Linked DNA regions of Homo sapiens. Each later gene encodes a partner of the first gene's protein in a complex. Each region holds a gene or a part of one and is shown on either strand. Other genes may lie near its edges.

Evidence for each region.
Region 2: CTNND1 (region 1) and CTNNB1 share a complex: the UniProt entries of both Homo sapiens proteins name them as parts of the cadherin:catenin adhesion complex.

The regions. Positions count from the first base shown.
Region 1 is NC_000011.10:57,803,032-57,806,950, reverse strand, and holds part of CTNND1 (catenin delta-1), read right to left. Parts: intron 3,331-3,919; coding exon 3,147-3,330; intron 2,289-3,146; coding exon 2,171-2,288; intron 1,070-2,170; coding exon 916-1,069; intron 491-915; coding exon 473-490; intron 37-472; coding exon 1-36. UniProt on the Homo sapiens protein: Key regulator of cell-cell adhesion that associates with and regulates the cell adhesion properties of both C-, E- and N-cadherins, being critical for their surface stability.
Region 2 is NC_000003.12:41,233,785-41,237,504, reverse strand, and holds part of CTNNB1 (catenin beta-1), read right to left. Parts: coding exon 3,638-3,720; intron 3,367-3,637; coding exon 3,208-3,366; intron 1,782-3,207; coding exon 1,662-1,781; intron 1,157-1,661; coding exon 1,006-1,156; intron 918-1,005; coding exon 796-917; intron 1-795. UniProt on the Homo sapiens protein: Key downstream component of the canonical Wnt signaling pathway.

The DNA.
Region 1 (3,919 bases):
CTGTATCGTTTGCTGGATCCTCTATAGGTTTTTTCCCTACAAAAATGAAAAAGGGCGGGAAAAGGGGTAAGCCAGTTTAAAAAAGAAAAGATTCCACCTGGCACATTTTTCATCCTTCAGTCAGAACCTTTTGATCACAGATGCACCACGAGGGGAAAAGGGGCAGGTGAGGGCAACTTGTTCCAGCAGGGGACTATTCAGAAACAAGGATAGAAAACAGGCAGCAGATAGGTAAGATGAGGATGACCACTGTTGATGCTATTGTCCTGAGTTCTGATAATGGGGACTGCTGCCCAGAAACAGCATGCCGTGAGCTATTAGCTCCAAAGAGCTAAACTTGTTTCAGTGTCTTCCTCAACTGAACTTTCCTACATGCATAGACAGGGAAAGGTTAGGCAAGGACATACTAGGGAAGCTAAAATCAAAACATGCAAATTAGAAGTAGATAAGCACCTTAAAAGACTCCACTCACCTCTGGAGAACCACTCATCTTCCAGTGCATCACCCAAGGTAGAAAGCAGAGAAGAGAAATGAAATAAGAAAAATGCAGGAGAAAGATGTCAGCAGAATCATGGGCAAATAAGCAGGGAAGCACAGAGAAGAAAAGAAAAACACAGAAAATGCAAAGGACGTATGGGGAAGAAGGTCCCAGATTAGTTGAGTTCTCATTTTCCACTGCCCCACTCATTGATACCACCACCACCACCACCACCACCACCACCAACACATCACAACCACCATCCCATCACCACACCTTGAATGAAGCACACAACACAGGGAAAGCAGCAAACCAAAAAGACATCCATAACCAGGCAGACTCCCATACTGTTGCCAAGTATTTTGTACCTTAAGCTAAAGTGTTCCTTCCTTTCCCTATCCCACATTAAAGACTAAGAAACAGGAACCAAGACTCACCTTTGCCCTTCTTGGCCCCAAAGCAACTGGCAGCATGTGGCCCAGTATTGTTGGCAACATTGGGAGCTGCCTCTTGGTAACGCTCTGCCTGTGGGATCTCCCGGTGAACTTGATATGATAAGTTCCGAAGAAGGCAAACACAGTTCTCTACAAGCTTAGGGACATAAAAGGGCCAATGAGAAAAAAGAATGTCTATTGTGATTTCTCCACAAGTACAGGTTTCCATGACTCAGGTATTAAAATGTTGATCTTCAAATGCATAACCCAATCCATAACTTCTCAGGATGCCTCTTAAGTGCTCCAGGCTTCTTGAAATCCCGGTAGCCTCAGGCTAATGGAAGGTCCAACTATGGACTTATTGGCTTCTGCCACTATTTGGTGTGTGACTGAAATTGGATCATCATTCTTACTACTTAGACAATGTACAATTTTGGAAGACAGCTAAGCAGCTTTAAAATACATAGGTGACAGATTTAAAAAAAAAAGAAAAAAAAGCCGGGCACAGTGGCTCACACCTGTAATCCCAGCACTTTGGGAGGCCGAGGCGGGTGGATCACCTGAGGTCGGGAGTTCAAAACCAGCCTGACCAACCTGGTGAAACCCTGTCTCTACTAAAACACAAAAATTAGCCGGGCATGGTGGCAGGTGCCTGTAATCCCAGCTACTCAGGAGATGAGGCAGAGAATTGCTTGAACCCAGGAGGGAGAGGTCGCAATGAGCCGAGATCACGGGACTGTACTCCAGCCTGGGACAGAGCCAGACTCCATCTCAAAAAAACAAACAAACAAACAAAAAACATGTTTTAAGTTGAATACCCACTTTAAGGAGTAAGGGCTTGGCTGGGCACAGTGGCTCACGCCTGTAATCCCAATGCTTTGGGAGGCTGAGGCAGGGGGATCACGTGAGGTCAAGAGTTTGAGACCAGCCAGGCCAACATGGTGAAACCCCGTCTCTACTAAAAATACAAAAATTAGCTGGGTGTGGTGGCACACGCCTGTAATCCCATCTACTTGGGAGGCTGAGGCATGAGAATCGCTTGAACCCAGGAAGCAGAAGTTGCAGTGAGCTGAGATCACATCACTGCACCCCAGGCTGGGCAACAGAGCAAGACTCTGTCTCAAAAATAAGGGGTAGGGGACAGTATAAATATTTAATGTTACTTGAAAGCCTGAGATGATAGGTCTCTGACCTACAGATACTTCATAGTTGTGGTGAATGAAATTCACTCAGCCATTAAAGGTAAGACAGCACTTACCTTGCTGTCTGAATCCTTCTGCCCAATCTCAGCCTGAACAATGAAAATGAGGGCATCAACTAAACCATCACATTCCCGAAGTTTCCGGCGAGCTTCACTCCTCTCTGAGCTTACATTCCTGAGGGGAAACCAGAAGCTTCAAGATGACTCAAATCCAGAAATCCTCCCTTAAATATCCCTCAACACCTACAAGATTCCTGAATATGTTTTTCTACTCACTGTAATAGTAAATACCTATTATAAGCAAGGTACTGCAGTTGAGAGAAAGTTGATTAACAGTCCCTGCCTTCTGAATGTTTATATCACTGTGGGGTAGGGATTAATGATATGTACCAGATGCAGTAATTCAAGATGGAATATATACTTCTCGTATGGAAGTATATAATACATATGTAGAATGGAACACAGCACACAGAGGTGTATTCCAAAGAGAGAAAGATTATATAGCAGCATTTATAGGATATAAAAAGAATTCAGGAAAACTTTAATAAAATAAAGGCACTTGAGTTTAACCACAAAAAGATAAATAAGAAGAGAAAGGCATCACAGAAAGAACAGACCTTCCTCACCCATGCCCTAACCTCCTAGTACTCTGTACCCCTTTTGCTGAATTTATCACAGCCTGACTTGAAATACAAATAACTAGGGCAAGGACATAGACACACACAAGTCCAGGACTAGACCACCTTACATGTGGTAGATGCTGAACAAAAGCTTACCAAAGTAGATGAACAAAGTCAAAGAGGCATAAAAGTGAAGAGGATGTGTGGGGAACAGCAAGAAAACTGATATAGGTACATGTGGTATACATGAGAGAATAGCAACAAAGATAGAAAGGTTGGAGTTACAGTATGCAATACAGATAGGAATGGAGGCTAAAGAATAGGCTAAAGAATTTTAATTTTTTTTTTTTTTTAGGAAATTTAAGTCAGTCCTCAAAAATTCATCTTCATATTCTCAAAGTCCCTACTGTTACCTAAGGCAGCCAGCTGTGTTGGTGAGCACCGATTCCCACTCAATGTGGCGTGGCTTACAGTCTTCATTAGGTTCCCGCTCCCAACCAGAATGAGGAATGATCACTTCATCTGTCAAGGCATGCAGTGCATGGTCCACAATCTCCATTTTGATTGAGTCATGGGATGAAAGATTCCACAGGGTTCCTGGAAGAGACAATTCATCAGATGGCTCTTGAGCATTCAAGACAATATGTCTGAAGAACGTCAAAGAGAATCCCCCTATCGTATCACTTCTCAGTCTTCCCCAGTGACCAAATACCTTATAGTAATATTCAAGCTTTGTTTGCGACCCTCACCAAGAAACATATTCTACATTATAGCTCAAAATAAACATACAGATCATGAAACAAACAATGTTTAACTATAAGCAACGCTCAGGCTGGGTGTGGTGGCTCACGCCTGTAATCCCAGCAATTTGGGAGGCCAAGGCGGGCGGATCACAAGGTTGGGAGATCAAGACCATCCTGGCTAACACTAAAAATACAAAAAATTAGCCGGGCGTGGTGGCGGGCACCTGTAGTCCCAGCTACTTGGGAGGCTGAGGCAGGAGAATGGCGTGAACCCATGAGGCGGAGCTTGCGGTGAGCTGAGATTGTGCCACTGCACTCCAGCCTGGGTGACAGAGCGAGACTCCATCTCAAAAAAAACAAACAAAACTATAAGCAATGCTCAATGCTCTCCGATCTGTCTATACCAGAGTTTTTCAACCTCAGCACCACTGACATTTTCGGCC
Region 2 (3,720 bases), on another chromosome or scaffold:
AAAAACCCAAGTAACACACTACTCACTGGTAATTTGCTTTTTTTTTTTTTTTTTTTTTGTGTTGGAGTCTGGCTCTGTCACTGAGTGCAGTCTGTTAACTCCTGGGTTCAAGCAATCCTCCTGCCCCCGTCTCCCCAGTAGCTAGGACTATAGGCATCCATCTCCATGCCCAGCTAAAGATGGGGTTTCACTATGTTGCCCAGGCTGATCTTAAACTCCGGTCTCAAGAGCTGCATCGTTGTAAACCTAACAATCTCTCTTTCCATTCACTCAACAAACATAATCCACTGTATGTCTGTGTACCATCAATGATCTCTATAGAATGGATAAAATATCAGGATGTTCTAGTTTTATTAGAAACAATGTTTCAAGGAACCACCTGTACTGAGGACAAATGCTGAAGAAAAATTCATAGCAGAAATTCAAATAGAAAAGTTTTATTAAAGTTTAGTAAAAAATACTGATAAACTGTCCTCTTAACAGTGTTTAACACTGCCTCTTTCCTTACATCCTTTTGAAAAATCTTCTTTAATCTGGTAACATTTTTCATCTTTCTCCCTTATGAATTATAATTTTAAATAACACAACTTATTTGTAATGATTCTGAACAGACTCTTTAAAGCTTGTATTATAGTTCTTCCTCAGAGCAGTTGCTAGACAGCATAAAGAAGAAATACTCAAGCCAGGGAAACATCAATGCAAATGAATGTGTACTAAGTGTTTTGAGAGGAAAGAACAAGCTGCCATACCTGCTCTAGGAAACTACCAGATAAATAACTGCTCACATTTCCCTACCTCATTCCAAGCCATTGGCTCTGTTCTGAAGAGAGAGCTGGTCAGCTCAACTGAAAGCCGTTTCTTGTAATCTTGTGGCTTGTCCTCAGACATTCGGAACAAAACAGCAGCTGCATATGTCGCTAAGAGACAAGGAGAAAAAGGCCCTTGAGGAAAAACTGAGACTTCAATGTACACATCTGCTAAAGGCTTTGGTTCCTTTTTACTTACCCACACCTTCATTCCTAGAGTGAAGTAACTCTGTCAGAGGAGCTGTGGCTCCCTCAGCTTCAATAGCTTCTGCAGCTTCCTTGTCCTGAGCAAGTTCACAGAGGACCCCTGCAGCTACTCTTTGGATGTTTTCAATGGGAGAATAAAGCAGCTAAGGAGAAAACACAAACAAAACCTAATTAAATCTAAAGCTAAAACATGGCAAGCCCCCCACTGTGGTGCAAACATTCCCAATTCAGAGTGCAAGAGGCATTCACACTGTAGTAAATAATATTCTCTGAATTTTATGTCTTGGGGTGTTTAATGCTCTGGAGCACTGGATTTCCATAATATTTTTTAGCTATAAACCCTTTCTTCAGAGGCAGCTCTAACTGATCTAAGATTTGGAAAACCCAGAATTGGTTGGGGGTCTATGCCCTGCCTCTGGCAGCCCAGGTCAGCTCTCCCCTCTAGGCACCCATAAAAGTGAAATGTGAAATCTCCTCCCTCTTCTCAAGTCTCAATGTTTCTCTTACTGACCAAAAAATGTAGGGAATTTTCATAAAATTAAATGTTGGTAACCCTATTATGGTCCCTAATTTTCTGAAATGTTATTAGTCATTACAATCTGGAAATTTTATGGACATAAAACCTAGAACACTTCACTTAAAACATACCTGCACAAACAATGGAATGGTATTTAGTCCTCTGATAACAATTCGGTTGTGAACATCCCGAGCTAGGATGTGAAGGGCTCCGGTACAACCTTCAACTATTTCTTCCATGCGGACCCCCTCCTGCCAAAAGAAACATGGTTAACAAACAGGGCATTCTCCTCTGTAAAGTTTGAGGAACAATTATTAGACTGTAATTATTTACATTATATACCCGAAGTTCCCCGTAACTTGCAATTAGTTCAGGAAGGAAGAAGGATTCCATTAACTTGAATGTCACTGAAAAGAGGCCTCCTGGCAGCACTAATTCAAAGCAGCACCCCTCCCCCATACACAGTGCAACAGAGCTTCCATACAGCGCTGAATCCCAAAGACAACTTTCCTACAGTAAGGGCACCAATCATTCTGGGTAAAAGGTATATAAAAAGAGAAGATGAGAAAGTAATGCTCAGACTATGTCAACGTTTTTCTTTTACATGCCCCCTCTATTTTTGTATATCTTCCATGTATTTGGTGAAAACTTTGCCAAGTTTTAGCACCAACTGCTAAAACTAACCGAGTTGCCAGCAGAAAAATTCACTCCTCACTCTTCCAAGACTATTCAGCTGACAGCCTCATGTATAGAAGGAAGATAGCTTTTGCAATATGTAAGTACCATCTGTTTCTCCTGTTTCTGGATTTGAGTTTTAAAAGGGGTTATTATTCTGCTACATTTAGCAGCTTTTATAAATAACTTGATTCTTACAAGGACACAAAAACTCTCTTCTTCCTAGAAAAGAGATTTAAAATAAAAGGTGCCCTCAACGTTCTATTAAGTCACCTCATGGAGATGGGCCAATACCAACAGTAATAAATGAAGAAAGCCAAAGCCCCAATATGAGTACATACACAAAGCAACCAGCAAAATGAGATTCCTAACATCTGTTCTGGTAGGCTCCATCTTTGTTTTCTAAACTAACCTAATAAGGTCTTAAAGTCTGAGAAATCAGAAATGTCATTAGACTATACTTTTAATGAAGCTACTTTTAAGACACAAACTTTGTATCAAAGCTTCAGGTTGAGATTTTTGTGGTTAAGAGTACAGAAATGCTACTACTTATTTCTGAATATTCTTAGGTCCATGAAAAAAGTTTAACTCACAGAAAAGATAATAAAACGGACTGCTAAATATTTATAGTCAAAATGCATGATGAGGCAAGGGTAAGAGGCTCTGAAATTACACAGATTTGATCTCAAATTATGACTCTACCTCTTCCTAAGGAAGTGGGCCTTTGTGTAAATTAAATGAGAACACTTTATGAAACACCTAACCCAACCTTTGTAAGACTGACCATGTGAAGGACGTGTCCAAGGAAATATCACTGGGGCCACACTATGCCTTATTTTCTCTGCAGCCATAGAAATGTGTAATTATTTATTTATTTACTTTGTCATTAGCTCTTCAGGAAGACGGATGGGGGGAACCAATGACCAAAGAAAGAAGTTCAGGATCCTTTGGATTTATGCATTCCTTTTAGATAGCCAGGTATCACTGTAAGAATTTACCTACCACAAATTGCTGCTGTGTCCCACCCATGGACGTACGGCGCTGGGTATCCTGATGTGCACGAACAAGCAACTGAACTAGTCGTGGAATGGCACCCTGCTCACGCAAAGGTGCATGATTTGCGGGACAAAGGGCAAGATTTCGAATCAATCCAACAGTAGCCTGAAAAACAGAAGGAAGAACTGGCATACAACTCAACAAAATCATTTTCTTACCCTAAAATTCCCACCACACTAAATCTATTGGTATCAACTAAAAGTAGTTCTGACTACACAAACATTTCAGAATCTTACCCCTATCGCAGCCATACTTCCTACTTACTAAGGAATACAATTCCTACTTATTGATCACTATGCTTAGACAGCCATCCAACAGCTAGAGATGCTTCATTTTCAATTCTGCAACAAAGGTAAATTCTACTTTGACAATTTACCTTTATCAGAGGCCAGTGGGATGGTGGGTGTAAGAGCTTAACCACAACTGGTAGTCCATAGTGAAGGCGAACTGCATTCTGGG